2 separate regions of the Homo sapiens genome follow, and region 2 is linked to region 1. Evidence: fine-mapped expression QTL. Tissue or cell type: atrial appendage. Region 1 holds a variant in brackets; the other region holds the start of a gene. All regions are shown on one strand. Distances are between the middles of the regions.

Region 1 (8,105 bases):
AGGTCAGGCCAGCAGGTATCCCTGTGCATGTGCAGGAAGGGGCCACGCTGCCTCCCCTGGAAACCAGAGTGCCTGAGGGTCATTGCCTACTGGCTGTTTCCCCCTCAGCAAATGCCCCACTCCCCGACCACGTGCTTATCCAGGTCTTGTCCCCTCAGAAGGACAGTAACTCCAAACCTGCCAGAAGCAAGACCCTGGCCCCAGCACCCCCAGAGAGGAACACGGAGGGGTCCTCGGAGAGCAGTGAGGAAGAGCTGCCACTGACCCAGGTGCGCCATGCCTTCTCTCTGCAGATGCTGCAGGATCAGAGCTGGGCTGGCAGGCCTTGCAGGAGAGGGCAGATCTTGCCCATAGGGAAAATCTCGCCATATTTAAACAGCACCTCACAGCTTCCAGAGCTCTTTCCTCTATTGTGACATTCATCTGAGCCCTGTGAGGCAGGCAGCAGTACACAGTTAAACATACAGGCTTCAGAGCCAGGTGGTGTTGGGGCGAAGCCCAGCTCTTCCACCCAACAGCCCCATGGTCCTGGGCAGATGCCTTTTCCCCTGTGTGAGGCTCAATGTTTCAGCCATAAAATGGGGACAGTACTGGCACCTCTCTCCTGCCTCTGTGCACTGGTGCCAGCACACAAGGTACTTGCCACAGTCCCCTGCCTAAGAAAGGGTGCCTGTTAACTGTGAGAAGGGCAGGGAGTGTTGCCCCATTTGACAGATTGGGAATCAAGCCTTAGAGTTGAAGCAGTTTCCCCAAATTCTCATGATTCATAAGAGGCTGAGGAAAGGTCCAAACGCTGGTCCCCTGGCTCCCTGTATCTCTCTGTTTTCTGTTTAGGACCAGGAGTCTTCTTGAATCCCATGAGCTCTGCCCAGGACCCTCTCTCAAGCACCTGTGGCATACCTTCATGTGCTCCACTGCACCCAGAGCTTAAGCCACAGTCCTGCTCAGGCTACACCTCCAAGGGTGGGACCAGGCCCACCTTATCTTCCTGTACTCCAGAGGCCCAAGTCAGCCATGCTGGTGTGGTCCAAGCTTCTGTGTGAACCCTGGCCCTTCCATCAGACAGCATTACCCTTTGTCCTCCTCTAGCCCCAAGCTCCCAGAAGCTTCTGCCAGGCACCTCAGAGCACCAGCTCCCCTGTCCCAGGGCCTAACCACAGATCCTGGAGTTCTGCAACCTCCAGACCAGAGCGGTCTCATGAACCACCTCCCCTTGAATATCACATACCACATTGTTATCAATTCATCAGTAAGGTCAGATGCTGTTTGCACACCTCCAGCAATAGGGTGCTCACTGCCTCTCACTTTCCAATGGCACAGATTACAAAAGTAAAGAACAACCACCACCAACATCGGTAACTCCCTGTATTCTCATTTTTCTGTTTAATCTCCACAACAGCCCTATGAGGGTGGCTCCCTTTGTTGTTTGCATTTTAAGGAACTGGGAGTGAGGCTCAGAGAAGTTGAGGGACCTGTCCCAGCATCACATGGCTGATGACAAGTGGACAGACCTGGTGTTTGAGCACAGGCCATTCACATTCTGACCCGTTGCCTGGTGCTGCCCCGACACTCTCCTCTCCTGGGCTTGGGCATTGCCCTCTGGCTCTGTGTGGAGCCTTTACGAGGCCACCTGCCTCTCTGAGGGATCTAAACAACTGGGAGGGAGGGGACCGCTCCCCCTTTCTCTGTGGGGGTGGACTAACACAATTAAAATGAACATCCTGCTTAAACTGAACCATTTAATTGGTATGTTAGTCCTGAAGATTCTGGAGTCTATTTAAAAAGCAGAAAAGAAGTCAGCGGTTTGTACATTCCCCCAGGAGGATTCGGGGAAGACGGGCATAGCCCGGGGAAGCTGCAGCCTCTTCCTGATTGAGAGATTTTTAGTTCCTAATCCCCAGCTCACTAATTATGATTATTTTCATTATTGTACATTTATTGAGCACCTCTCTATTGACAAGTTTCAGTCTGATTTTATTAGCCCATCAGTGGGGAAAGGGATTGAGGCCAGGGTGGTGGGCAGAGTCCCAGGCTGGGAGGCAGGGATAGATACCTTGGCTCCATTCCTAGACCCCTCACTGTGCCTCCGCCCTGTTGTGCAGAGTAGACCTCAGGCCAGAGTCTGTGCTGGGGTCAGGACAGCTTCCAGATTTAAAAACAAGTAGGTGATACATATGTTAAATAACTTAATTTAGCTATTCCACAATGTATATGTGTATCAAAACATCATGTTATATACCACAAATATATGCAGTTTCACTTGTCGGTAATATTTTTTAAGGCCAACTTCTTCTATTAGTTTGTCAAAGACGTAGGCCCTGCTCTCAAAGTTTTAGGTTGAATCAAAGAAAAAGGAAACCTGTAAGAAACTAAATTCTGGTGTTACATTGAGGCCTAGCATAATTGGTTCTAGAAGGAGCTCCAGTCTGGTGCCTGGAGAACTAACTTCTAATCCTGGCTCTGGCACCAGTTTGCTGGTTGCCCTGGGTGAGGCCACTTGCCTTCTCTGAGCCTCATTCATCTCAATCTCTGGGATGAGACTTCCTGGGTTGGTGGGGTGGACCTTGAGGCTCCAGGCCACATCCCCAGAGAGTAGAATTTCTCAGTCCCCTGGAGTGGGGCTGGCCTAGATCTGTTAAGCAGCCTCAGGCAATTCTGAGAGAGGTTCTTGGAGTGTTTGTTGCCTTTGTGGTCATGTCCCTTGCCAGGGTCCGCAGCCTAGGCCATCAGCCCCCTCTCCCCACTCTGTGACTTGCTGGAATGAAGGCACAGTTAGAATGAGCTCAGCTTTGACAGGATGGGGTGAGCACTGTCCAGAAAGCCCCTAGGTTTGGTTCTGCAGGCATCAGACCTACAGGTAGGAGGGGTATCCCAGGGTTCCCTCTGGGTCCTTACTGCCCAGCACCTATAGGGAGGTACAACCAAATGTTCAGGCCAGTGCTGGTTTTGCTGCTTCACTCCCATCAGTTTTTTTTCTAACTGACCCCAGAACTACATTCCTGTGTATACTGTGCTTTCCAGTTTCCACAGTGCATTGGAACCCCTCCAGTGAATGAGCCCAGGCTGGGATAACTACTAGCCGTTTCATTAAACGGGAAACTGAGGATCAGAAAGTTGAGGGGCTTGACCACACAGTGAAGTCATGAGAGAGGCGTAATGAGAAGCAGGTCTTCTCCTATACCCTGGGCAAGCTTCACTGCCCACCTTTATGAACTCTACAGGCTAATGCCCCGCCCCAACCCCCCACAGCCAAGCCCCCTGCACCACCTCCCTCCTACGGCCCAGAGGCCCAGTGGGGTGGCGTGGGCAGGTGGAACTAACAGGAGGCTTTTGCTGCTGAGCTGCTTTTAACATCCCAAGACGCTATTGTTTGCCTCAGTGGGTTCGTTGCTTCTCTTCGTCCCCGACAATCTGTTCCTGTCTTCACATATATATAGATCCCCCCTCCCTCAACTGTAAGCCTTCTCCCACTTTCCATCCTTCTCTTTTTTATATCGTGGGAAGGAAGGCTCTGGAAGTGGCAGATCGGAGCAGCCGCGGGGGAGGCTATTTGGCAGGGGTAGGAAAGGCCTAAGCCCAGAGAAGCTTCCACCCTCAGGCAGGCACCTTTCTGTTTTACTTTTTACTTTATGCCTCTCCACAGCACCTTAGCACCCTGAGGAGCCAGGTGTGCTAAGTCAGGCTCAGGGGGTAAACAGGATGGTGAAACAGAGACCAGTCTGGACCTGATTCCACTCCTCTCTTAGCCTCAGGCAGCTCCCTCTTCCTGCCCTCCAGCTCTTCACTGGCCAGAGAGGGAGCAGAGCTCAAACCAGATCTGACATTTGGGGAATGGAAAGTAGACCTGACCAGCTCCCTGGCTCACAACCATGTGTGTTCTCGTTAGCTGGAGGTTCAGGAAGGAAATGGGCCTGGAGATGCCCTCGTGTGCGGTGAACATGTTCAGGGATGGTGCAGTTCAAAACCAGACTGGCCTGCAGAATACCAGGGAGCTGCTGTTGCTTGTTTGCTTTTTCTTTTATTGTTTCCTTGGAAAATTTAAAGCATACCCAAAGATAGATAATGTAAAGAACCCCCACGTACCATCCCCAGCCTCAACAGTTAGGAACTCCTGAGCAGGCTCGTTTCACGCAAACCCTCCACTCAGTTCCCCAA[C/T]GCCCCTGGATTACTTTGCAGCCAGTCTCAGACATGTCAGCTCATCCACCAGGATTTCAGTATGCAGCTCTCAGTTATAAGGACCTTTTTAAGCACAACTACGATACAGTGTCACACCTAATAAGTTGATCTACCCAGTCAGTGTCCCTATTTCCCTGATTGTCTCATGGAGTTCAGTTAAAGGCCACGTACGGCATTGAGTTATTAATCCTCTAAGTCTTAATCTGTTGGTTCTCACCCACTCACCCAACCCTTGTTTCTCTTGTGCATTTTTTTGTTGAAGAAACTGAATTGGTATAGCTGGGGAGTTTCATCCTGGGCCATGTATCAGGAGGGCTGCATCAGAACCTCTGGGGTTGGGGCAACTAGACTGTAAATACCTCCCCAGGTGAATTGCATATTCCAACCAGGCAGCCTTGGAAAACTGCTTAGACCACTCCCTGCATTCAGCAAGTAACTGTTTCTGAAGCCAGCCGGGGAAAGAAGGCAGAATTGGACATTCTGGCCGTGGCTTTGCTTCCAGTAGGGACAGCAGCCTTGGGTCGCTCCCTTTCCCTCTGGGCTTGTGGTTTTCCCACTTTGTATAAGGGAGCTGATCCTGCTGAATGTAGGGCTTCACTGTGAGGGTCAGGTGGGCTCTGGGAGTTGTGAAGTGCTGTGCTGGGTCTTAGCAGATGTGTGGGGTGGGAGGGGGCACCCTGGGCAGCTGGAATGGCTTCTGTGCCCAGCTGCCCCTGAGCTCAGTGGACCCTTTGCCTTGTAAAACACTCCCTAACCCCATCACCTCCTTTCCCTGGCCAAGCCTTTAATCACTGGGGGGGTGTTTTGTTTTTGTTTTTCAAGGTGATTAAACCCCCTCTGATTTTTGTCGACCCTAATCGTAGTCCAGCTGGCCCAGCTGCTACACCCGCACAAGCCCAGGCTGCAAGCACCCCGAGGAAGGCCCGAGCCTCGGAGAGCACAGCCAGGAGCTCCTCCTCCGAGAGCGAGGATGAGGACGTGATCCCCGCTACACAGTGCTTGACTCCTGGTGAGCGCAGCCCTTATGCAGTGGTGGGAGGGGCTGCCAGCACTGCCCCACATTGAGGCCCAGAAGGGACAGGACACTGGCTGAGTCACATAGCAAGGTGTTGGTCGGGAGGGGCTTGGGGTCAGGTCTCTGGGCCCTGCATTAGCCATTCTGATTAGGGCCTGGCTCAGACCTGCAGTTCTGGGGGAATAGTTGCCAGAGCTTTTTTGTGGCAGCCCCAGTCATGGAGCCCAGACCAGTGGCTAGAAGCTGCAGGGACCAGGTTCCTACATAGTCTAAGAAAGAATTCTGTATCAGTTGACTGCCTGTGGAACAAGTGGTCAGGGTGGTAGTGAGCTTCCCGTCCTTGGTGGCATGTAAAGTAGGTTAGGCAATCCCTAAGCCAGAGACATCACAGGGATAGATTTCATCTATCAGAGAGACAGGACCAATCTGAGGTTTCTTTGACTTCTGAGAATCTGTGATTCTACCAATGACAACAGGAAAAGGGTTAATGTTACTATTACAGTTATTGTAACAGTTTTACAAGCAATAATACCTGATCCTGATAGGACAATTTAAAAATGCAGACGGGTGCAGTGGCTCACGCCTATAATCCTAGCTCTTTGGGAGGCTGAGGCAGGCAGATCACCTGAGATCAGGAGTTCAAGACCAGCCTGGGTAACATGGCGAAACCCCGTCTCTACTAAAAATACAAAAAATTAGCCTGGCGGGCGCCTGTAATCCCAGGTACTTGAGAGGGTAAGCCACGAGAATCGCTTGAACCCAGGAGGCAGAAGTTGCAGTGATCTGAGATGTGCCACAGCACTCCAGCCTGGGCGACAGTGAGACTGTCTCAAAAAAACAGAAAGCAGGCAAAATAGAGATTACTGCTGGGCATGGTGGTTCGCACCTGTAATCCCAGCACTTTAGAAGGCCAAGGTAGGAAGATCGCTTGAGCCCAGGAGTTCAAGACCAGCCTGGGCAACATAGTGAGAGCCCTATCTCTACCTATCTACCTACCTACATACATATGTACATATACATATACTTATACATATATGTGTGTATGTGTGTGTATATTTTTTTAATAAAAATACAGATTAGCACATAAGAAACTATATCACCTGTAATTCTGCCCCAAATAATTACTGTTAACATTTGACAAATGCTAACTTTATAAAAACCTAAAATATACGTGTGTTTTTAAAGCAAGACCATACTGTATCTAATGTTCAGTAACCTTCACTGGATATTTTATGACATCGGGTTTTTTTCATCTTTACATATTTGCAGCACAATTCCTAATGGCTACAGAGAAATCCCTTGGGTGGACATGCTACAGTGTGTGTAGCCAGCACCATGTTGGAGGAAGCAGAGGGTTTTGTTTCAGGGTGGAGGGGTGAGGGAGTTGGCTGTTATAAACAGTGCTTTGAAGAACATGCATGTAACCAGGCCTCTGCAGATAACCACGGGGACTCTTAGGAGAGACGATTTTAACTGCAAGGAGAGTCGTTTGGTGCCGGTGCTCTGGCCCATTGCTCAGGAGTGGCAGCCCGACCAGTTGGGAGGGGAGGGGATGAGGAAGCCTGGGGTCACCCCCAGAGCAGCCATTTGAGCTCCCTGAGCCTTGTCAAATGACATAATGACATCTCCTGCCTGGGAGGCTTGGAGAGGGAAGTAAACAAGCTTCTACCTCTGTAAGCCCTGAGCACAGCTCTAGATCACCAGCACAGGCCGGTAAATTGGGTTATTGCCGCTGCTGAGGAGGCGATGGGGCTTTTGTGCCCTGATGTGCCCCCATCTCGCTCCATTTCAGGCATCAGAACCAATGTGGTGACCATGCCCACTGCCCACCCAAGAATAGCCCCCAAAGCCAGCATGGCTGGGGCCAGCAGCAGCAAGGAGTCCAGTCGGATATCAGATGGCAAGAAACAGGAGGGACCAGCCACTCAGGTACCTGGTGGGCAAGGGAGGGTAATGCAGGCCAGTGGGGTGGGGCCCTACTTCCATACTTACCCACATGTGCTGATGGGATGGCCTGCAATTGCTGTCACGCCCACACTCCAGAGGTCGTGGCCTCACAGCCAGAGGCTTTCTGGCCTCCTAGCTACAACCCCCCAAATCACCTTTGAGTTATGAGGAAGAGTAATCTGGGGACACAGCCTCCTGGCCAAGCAAGCCCTGCAGCACTCGAGTCCCTCATGAGATTTTCCAGCGTAGTGGGGCTTTTGATTTTTTTTCTTCCAGTTTTGAAATGCCATGAACAAAAGTTGCCCTTTTTTGGTGTTTGTAATAGTGACTTCAGCATTCTTCCAAGCCTTTACCATCTTCAGTGCATTTTTATTTGGTCCTTGCCTGAATCTAAAAGCTGGGCATTTTAGGGTTAATGGCTGGTGCATTGTTTAGATCATAAAACTTAGCACACATCCCCACCCCAAGGGCTGCGATGTGACCAGCATTCAGCAAGGCCGGAACCCGGGTCTTCTGAGACCCAGTTCATTGCTCTTTGGGCCATATCAGTCTGGTTTCCCATCCCACTGAGAGGATGAAGTCCATGACACACTCTGACCTCTCTTCCTGAGGGGTGGGCTAAGGGGGTGTTGGGGGGCGGTGGGGCTGGTGTGCCACCCACTCCCTGGGCTCATCACAAGCTCCAGGTCAAAAACTTCTGGGAACATGGGTGTCGGATGGGAAGTCAGGCTGTGGTCACTGCATCCATGAGCATCGGTTCCTGCCAGGCCCTAGGGATACTGCAGGAACCAAGACAGGGACAAGGAATTCCCAGGCCAGTCAGGGAGTGGTGAGGGGCAGCGATTAAACAAGGAAACCCACATATAAATAAAAAGTATTCACCAGCTGGTAGGAGAGGAAACAATAAAAACTAGAGAATAGTGGGGTGACCTGCTATATGAAGGCCTCCTGAGACAGCGATGCTTAA
Region 2 (8,105 bases), 370 kb after region 1:
TTTTCAGGGCTTTCTGTTCTCTCCTTAAATGCTACTTTTCCTAGTGCTCAGCCAACATTTCTCCTTTAGGAGGTCCCTATGTCTTCTTGCTTTTAACTCTCCCACCAGCACAGATTATCAAGATTTCACCTGCAGTCCTGTACCTGCTTGAAGTTCTGTTCTATAATATAACTTGCATTATCTGTTATAGTCTGCCATCTGGATACTATCAAAAGAAGATAATAATAGTACTCACCTTACAAGGAAGCTTTGAGGATTAAATGATAAAAATTAATTTGTGGAAAGTATACAAAACAGTATCTGGTTATCAGGGGTTACTTCTCAGGGCAGGAAAGACAAATAATAGTGGTTCACATCCATAAAGGTATGGGGGTATGACTAACAGCAAAAGGACTTTCACTTCAAGCTAAAAACTAAACACCATCCAGTAGCAATGAGCAAGCCTAGCAGCCATATCTTGGTTTCTAAGACTATTCTCCAATAAAGTGAACCAAGGCTCCTTGGAGAAACAACTCTAAGACTGAGACAGAAAATATACAAGATGAGGCTGGGCACAGCAGCTCACGCTTGTAATCCCAGCACTTTGGGCCAAGGCAGGTGAAGTGCTTGAGCCAGGAGTTCAAGACCAGCCTGGGCAACATGGCAAAAGCCTATCTCTCCAAAAAAATACAAAAATTATCCAGGTGTGGTAGCATGTGCCTAGTCTCAGCTACTCAGGAGGCTGAGGTGGAAGGACTGCTTGAGCCTGGGAGGTTGAGGTTGCAGTGAGCCAAGATTGCACCACTGCACTTCAACCTAGGCGCCAAAGTGAGACCCTGTCTCAAAAAAAAAAAAATACACACAAAACATACACACAAGATGAGTCTGGAGTATCTTGTAGTACTGGTAAGAAAATGATCAAAGTAATGAACAGAGAACTCTCTCCTGCTCCTAATGATGGGGGTATGTCAAAGGGATCTAGGAGTCAACTGAAAGAGCTCCCAATGGCCAAAGCTGAAATAATTTGAGCAAAATAAATAAAGTAGTATTGGATTACAAGCCAAAATATAAAATGAATATTCATAATCCCACTGTCCTATAAGTAAGTGATTTAAAAAACAAATAAACAAGAGGAGAAGAGACAGATCTTCCATGCAAAAGAATTCCAAATCCAAATAATTTATGCAGATAGTCCTCAAGGACAGGGGAGCATAATTCTCTAGTCTTTATGGGCTGTGACAGTAATTTTCCTTCCAAAAAGTAGAGTACAAAAAAAGAAGGAAAAGCAGTAACTTTACAGTGGAGAAACCTGACAAACACTAGCTCAAGCCAGATAATCAAGGTTAACACCAACAGTGACAAGTCATAAGTATTTACCCTTGATATGATGTAATCAAAGATGGCACTTTACCTCTGTGGTTCTCCTCCGCAAAATACATTCCCCTAGTCTGATGAGAAAAAAACATCATGCAAATCCTAATGAAATGACATTCTATAAAATACCTCACCAGTACTCCTCAATACTTTTGAGGTCATCAAAACCAAGGAAATTTTAAGATTCTCCTATCACACCACACCCAAGAGGAGTCTAGAGACATAACTATAAATATAATGTGATATCCTGAAAAGAATCCTGGAAAAAAAGGAGACCACAGAAAAACTAAGGAAATCTGAATAAAATGTAGTGTATTGGTTCATTAATTGTAACAAATATACCACACTAATGTAAAAAGTTAACAATAGGGGAGACTGGATGTGAGGTAAATGGGAACTCTCCATACTATCTTCACCATAATTCTGAAGTACAAAACTGTTCTAAAGTAGAAAATCTATTTCAAAAATCAAAGGGGATTTCATCTTTGGCAATGGTGATGCTTAAAAATGAAAAAGAGCTGGTTAAAAAAGTTAATTTCATGTGTCTTTTTTTTTTTTTTTTTTTTGAGACAAAGACTTGCTCTGTTGCCCAGGCTGGAGTGCAGTGGCACAATCTTGGCTCACTGCAATGTCTGCCTCCCAGGTTCAAGCAATTCATCTGCCTCAGCCTCCCAAGTAGCTGGGACTACAGGCGCGTGCCACCACACCTAGCTAATTTTTTGTATTTTTAGTAGAGATGGGGTTTCGCCATGTTAGCCAGGATGGTATCAACCTCTTGACCTCGTGATCCCTGCCTCCGCCTCCCAAAGTGCTGGGATTACAGGCGTGAGCCACCATGCCTGGCCCATGTGTCTTTTTAACTAGCTATTTTAGAGAACAGTCAAGGAAAATAGGAAGAAAAAAAAAATCAGTCCAGGTCTTACCTATTCTTTTTTAGTTTGGCTTCAGCCGATGGCATATTTTCTAAACAACTGGGACAATAATGGGAGTCCACCTAGGAGGAAACAAGAAAGAAAAAAAAAACCAGAGGAGAACTCAGTTTAACTTGTGTATATGTCTTGTCAAATAGTGAATTTTAAAATATGTTATACTGTAGCAGAAAGTAGACTGTTTTCTGCTTAGGGTTTATTCTTCTTCAGTCACCTGTTTTTTTTTTTTCTTCTTCTTCCGGATTTAAAAAATCCTTCTATTTTTCTGATCTTTCCTATTCCATCATCAGGGTTTTATGTGTTAAAAGTTGTTTATTTAACAATCTACAATTTCCAGTTGAACTCCATAGAATTCTATGATTAATAAAGAGATTAATAAAATAATCCAATTTGTAACATTGTGATAAAATATCCTCCTGTCTAGGCTAGCTTTATATGACTATAAAACTTGACCATACTTTTAGGTTTTGAAGGACATTTTTTTAAAGATTTCTCATTATTGAAGTAATACAGGTTGACTGAAGGCAAGCATAAATATTTATTTACATAGTCAGCTATGGCCAACCAATTAGAGATTTTTAAACAAATTAATGGGACAGTCTTATTGTACTTAAAAAACTGGAGTCTAAAATTTAAGTTCATTTTATTTTTTAAAAGTCTGAATAATTATTTTCTTTAATGTAGGTCCTATTTGACAATTATAGAACTCTAGTCACCTGCAAATGAAAAGACAATCACTGGAACATAAATACTATGATAGAAACTGGCTTTTTTCATCATCTGCTATAAACAGGTCAATTTGAAAAGATTAATAAAGTTGTTGCTCAAATAATCTCCAGGAACATAAAATACAATATTGCTAACTAACCTCTGCACTGACTCATCAAAAAAGGCAAAATACAAGTCATTCCTTTTTGCCCCCTTTCCAAATTCTGCTTGTCCGTTCATGTGCAGCTCCAGACCCAGATTCTCCATTAGAACTTCACTGCCTGCCCCAGCCCTCAGAGCTTCATCTTTCCCTAAACTCTAATGGCCTCCATATCACAGGTACACATCAGGCTGTAAAAGATGCTGTCACAGACTGGATGTCCTAATTGAAGAGAGTCTTAGAGACAGATCATGGAGACTGAGCACTCTATTCACCACAGGAGAATATGATCCAATAAATTCTGGAGGTGGAGCTGGAATAGGGAATCATCAAGGAGATACACATAAGGAAAGTGCTAATGGAGATGAGAAGAAAAATCGATGCCATATTTTTAATATATACGATTTTTCTTGTATTATTTAATTGCTTTTCTTGACTATTCCTATTATGAAAAGTATCTTCAATAAAATAAGTTATTAATAACACATAAAATGGCTTATAGTATGTGTTTTCATATGCATTTATTTTAACAGTCCCGGGATCTTCAGTAAAAAACACTCTGAGTTAGGCTGTTTAGATTCAAATCCAGGTCCTCCTTCCCACCCCCAAATTACTGGCTGTGTGACTTACAGCGAACACTCTGTATCTGTTTCTTTACCTGTAAAAAAAATTTTTTAAAAAAAGTATCCACTTAAATTGGTTTGAAGATTACATAAAGCACATGACATATAGCAAGTATCGAATAAGCAGCAACTATTACTACTATCAGCTTTTTCTTCACTAAGACTATGGCTTATTAAACAGCGCATTTTATGTCTTACTCGCCTTTTAATCCCTAAAGCTTACTGAATAAACAAGATGTGCCAAGCGCTGCAGAAGTTTTGGGGTTTTGTTATTTGGTGACTTTTTACTGGCCGGGGTCTTCTTTTTGAAAAATCCAACTTCGGACGCCCACTTGTGCCAGGGAAGGACAGCATTGTCCTCTAGCTCCATAAATACACTTTCAGCTTCTTACATGACATACTGTATTCTGAGCGCTTTTCACATAACTCACGCCGCCCCAACCTCTTCCCGGCTGCAGGCCTTGGCCTGAGTCAGGAACAGGGCAAGGCAGTCTGACGAGGGCCCAGTTTCTGGACAAAAGAGGAACAGAACTTTCAGGATGGGAGAACTATGAATGAGAACGCCTGCGCCTCCCTCCATCCTCGCAATAAATCCTGGAAAGGCAGTTTTTCGCCCCTTAAGTGGCCTGAACTAAGCACCCCCAGACCTTTCTCCGTAGTCCACCCAATTACCAAGCCCCATCGCAGACAGACACGGTCCCTAAGTCAAGTTTGTCCAATCAGAGGCCGCTCTAGAACCAGAAGATCCGCTCAGTCCCACCCGAGGCTGCTCCTCCTTTCCAAGTGACAGATTAGAAGCAAATTAAATCGCAGGCAAACCCGAGTGACGGAAGACATAACCAATCAGTAAGGAAGGAAAATAGCTCCAGCCTTCCGGTGGCAGTGACTAGCATGAACGCCGCGCCCCCCCCACCCCACATACTCGCTATAGGGCGACTCTGTTACCTCGTGAGACACACATTCCAGCGACCGCAGTTCGCTACAATAGCGGCAGAAGTAGAGTTGCGAGAGCGGGGCCCGAACCTTCTTTTCTCCCTGGACTAGATAGAGAACCCGGTCCGACTGCAGCAAGGACGCCATCTTGGGGAGGGAGGAGGCGATGACGCTCCCGGCGCATCACGTGACCCGAGAGCCAGCGTCTTCCTCGCTGCCTTCCCTACGACTTCCTACGTAGACTTTGACGTTAGGTTTCCCACCTCGTCCGGCTCTGCGCCCGTCGAAAACCAGAGCGCGCGTGCGCAGCTGGGATCCCTGTTTTCTCCCCAACTCTGGGCCCGTCCCCCAGCGCTTTTGTGAGCGTCCACTGCCCTTACTGCCATTAGGTCTGGACTCAGTGAGCTCCTTTTATTCTTTTCTTCCAGAATGGAAGCCTGATCTTTTGTCTTATTTACGACGGCCTCCTCTGCCCCACTTAACAGGCGAGCATCCAGGAGACAAATGGAAGGTCTCAAAGGGACAGGGCTCCGTGGGGACTGCAAGACAGGAGTCACACCAGCACTGTCTTCTGAGTCTTGCCAATGGCCTTTGGGAACTTTCACATACATTATCTCATTTGAAACGCAGGTTTTTGAGTACATAGTTAGCGTTAGGTCTAAGTCTGTATTGTGGACCTTCAATAAGTATGAAAAGGAGGGAATGAAATCAATGAATGAACAATGTTGGTAGGCGTCTACGTTTTTCTAATGTGTAAACTAAGGCTCAGGTCTGCCTCTTGGGTGAGCAGCGACTACGTGAGACTGGTATTACATGGGTGGGAAAATAATTTATCAACAGTTTTAGGTAAAGAAATGCAGATTTATTAGAGAAGGTATGAAAATACGTTGAAAGGTTGCAATGGGCAGACCAGCCAGAGAGGAGCTGACTTCAAGGAAACAAAGGCTTGCTGGAGATTTTATCCGATGGTTCTTGGGCTGCAGAGTGCTGTGCAGTACCGAGAACTCCAAGGTTACAGGGAGCTAACTTGCATGTGTCTCGTGATAGCTGAGTGCAGGAAGATTGTGAGTTATTTGCACAGGAGGGCTACGTGTCCTGCACCATGAAGAAAGGCAGACTTAGAGTGCATCTGCTCTTCTTGCTATCCCTTGGTCCCACTAGCCTGACTCCCTTTCTCTAACTGGGACTCCCCAGTATGTAAAATGACCACCTAGAACTGCCTAGCAGAAACTGGAGCCTCTGTTGCCTGCCACCAGGTCTACATTTTTATAATTGTAGTAGTGTTGTATTATTACCTGTCTGACGTTAGAGTTGGTGATTGAGAAGAAAGGGAACTGAATACTATTAGCAAACATTTATTGAGCACTTATTAAGTGCAGCACACTGTGTCAAAACTTTACATACATTGTCTAATTTAATTCTTACAACAGCTCCAAAAAGCATGTGGCTATCATTATTTCTATTTTACAGAGCAGGAAACTGAGGCACAGGGAAGTGCAGTGACTCCTCTATAAGGTTTCATAGATGGAGGTAGAACCCTTTTCTCTCTGACTCTAGTGCTTGCAGGTATAACCCCTATGTATACTCCCTCCAGCATATTTTCTAATATGGTGATGTTAATAATACCTTACATTTATATAGACCTTTTCAGCTTATACAGTGCTAATCTCACAATTTATGTCACGCTTTACCAATTGAGCCTAAAAGTCATTACTTGTTCACCAAGCAATAGCCTGGCACTAATTTAGTTTCATAGGTGACATCTGCTCCTAGGAGAGAATATATTACTAGCCAACTCATTTGCAATTATTTCTTTAGGTTAATGAATTCGTTGGTTTTCTGGTTTATAAACTAGTCTCTACTGAGTTTAAATTCCCTTTTCTGGACTATGCTGTTAAAATGAAGTCCCAGAGCCTGCAGGTACAGAAAGGCTGGAGACTTGAGCTGAATCCACATAAAACAGACACTTTTTAGAGCACTGATTTTAAATAATTAAGTGGCCAATTATCTTGTCCCTGCTACATGCCAGGTACTGGGGAGGGAACTAGCGATAAATGAGATACTTTCCATCCTCAAAGGCTCAGGGTTCTAGCAGGATCGAGTCCTAGTTATGCACAATGGTGACCAGCTTGATAATGTAGCCTTGTGTTGCTTTTTCACTCTACCCAGCCCTGGACTCACCCTCATTCACTTCTCAATCCTGGCTTCCTGCCTGCAGAATCTCATTTTGAGCTCTGCTTTCTAGGGGGAACTCAGGCTAATACAGAGACCCTAAAGTTGAACTGGCAGATCAAAGGATATCCACATTTAATAAATACTGGCAATAAGCCCTTGTGAAATTCTAGGCCAATTTACACTCTCACTATAAGTGTATGAGCTATCCATTTCCCACTGTTTTGCCCACCTGGCATATTATCAAATTTGAGTGGATACTTTTGGCACTTTCTAGCTATGTGATCTTGAAAAAGACATTTACACCTCAGAGTCTTGTTTCAAGACACATAGAATGAGAAGAATAATCCCTGCCTTGGTGAAAATAAAAAATCATCCAGGCTGTGAAAGCATTTTGTAAGGTATGAAGTACTAAGCACATGGAAGAAATGCTCCCTAAATATCCCAAGTATGAAAAACCCAAAGTGGTTTTCATTTTTATAAAGAGTCCTTCAGAGTAAATCCACAATAATAATGGAAAAAACTGGAAGTTAGTCAGACTTTGGTCAAATGAGGTCTTGTGAAGGGGACCGAATCTGGGCTCTGACCTCAAAGACTTAGGGTTTTCTACAGCTTAGGAATCTGGGGAACTGCTCTCACCAATGCTGGCCACCTGCCCTGGCTGCCTTCCCCACTTTTGCTTTCCTACTTGAAAACTATATTAATTATAGGGTTTCCTGTGTTGAATCTATTTACAGGCTAATCTAAAAGTCATAGTAAGTGAATAGAGGAGGAAGAAAAAAGAAGTCCCTGTTTCATCAATATCCATGCTAGCCCCTGTGGGGGCCCTTACTGCCCAGGAAATGTGGTGGTGGCAGGGCTAAAGCTAATTTCCCAAGTGTAAACATGGCAAAAGACTGCTGGCCTGCCTTTATTCTGGGAAATCTTTTGAATTGTTTTTGCTTTTGAATTGAACTGAACTTTGAATTTTTCTTTCCTTTTTTTTTTTTTTTTTGAGACGGAGTCTCACTCTATCGCCCAGGCTGGAGTGCAGTGGCACAATCTCAGCTCACTGCAAGCTCCGCCTCCTGGGTTCATGCCATTCTCCTGCCTCAGCCTCCCAAGTAGCTGGGACTACAGGTGCCCGCCACCACGGCCGGCTAATTTTTTTGTATTTTTAGTAGAGATGGGTTTTCACCGTGTTAGCCAAGATGGTCTGGATCTCCTGACCTCATGATCTGCCCTCCT

Direction of the effects. Alleles are on the strand shown, and positions count from the first base shown. SD is a standard deviation of normalised expression in the study named.
As copies of T replace C in region 1, the expression in atrial appendage of the gene that starts at base 4,877 in region 2 goes down (large effect, 0.89 SD a copy in GTEx).

The links. PIP is the estimated chance that this variant, and not a neighbour inherited with it, causes the effect.
Region 2: DCTN4 starts here. The variant in region 1 is fine-mapped to the expression of DCTN4 in atrial appendage (GTEx, PIP 0.99).

The regions. Positions count from the first base shown.
Region 1 is chr5:150,382,904-150,391,008 of GRCh38, forward strand. TCOF1 (treacle ribosome biogenesis factor 1) reads left to right here. Exons shown (of 27, transcript NM_001371623.1): 18 at 4,999-5,185; 19 at 6,984-7,120. Among named protein-coding and RNA genes, the nearest start is that of CD74, 26 kb to the right of the region's middle. The variant C/T (reference allele first, on the strand shown) is at 4,156.
Region 2 is chr5:150,754,141-150,762,245 of GRCh38, forward strand. DCTN4 (dynactin subunit 4) reads right to left here and starts at 4,877. Exons shown (of 13, transcript NM_016221.4): 1 at 4,719-4,877; 2 at 2,277-2,347. The coding sequence starts at 4,853. RefSeq lists enhancers at 4,153-4,222, 4,653-4,952.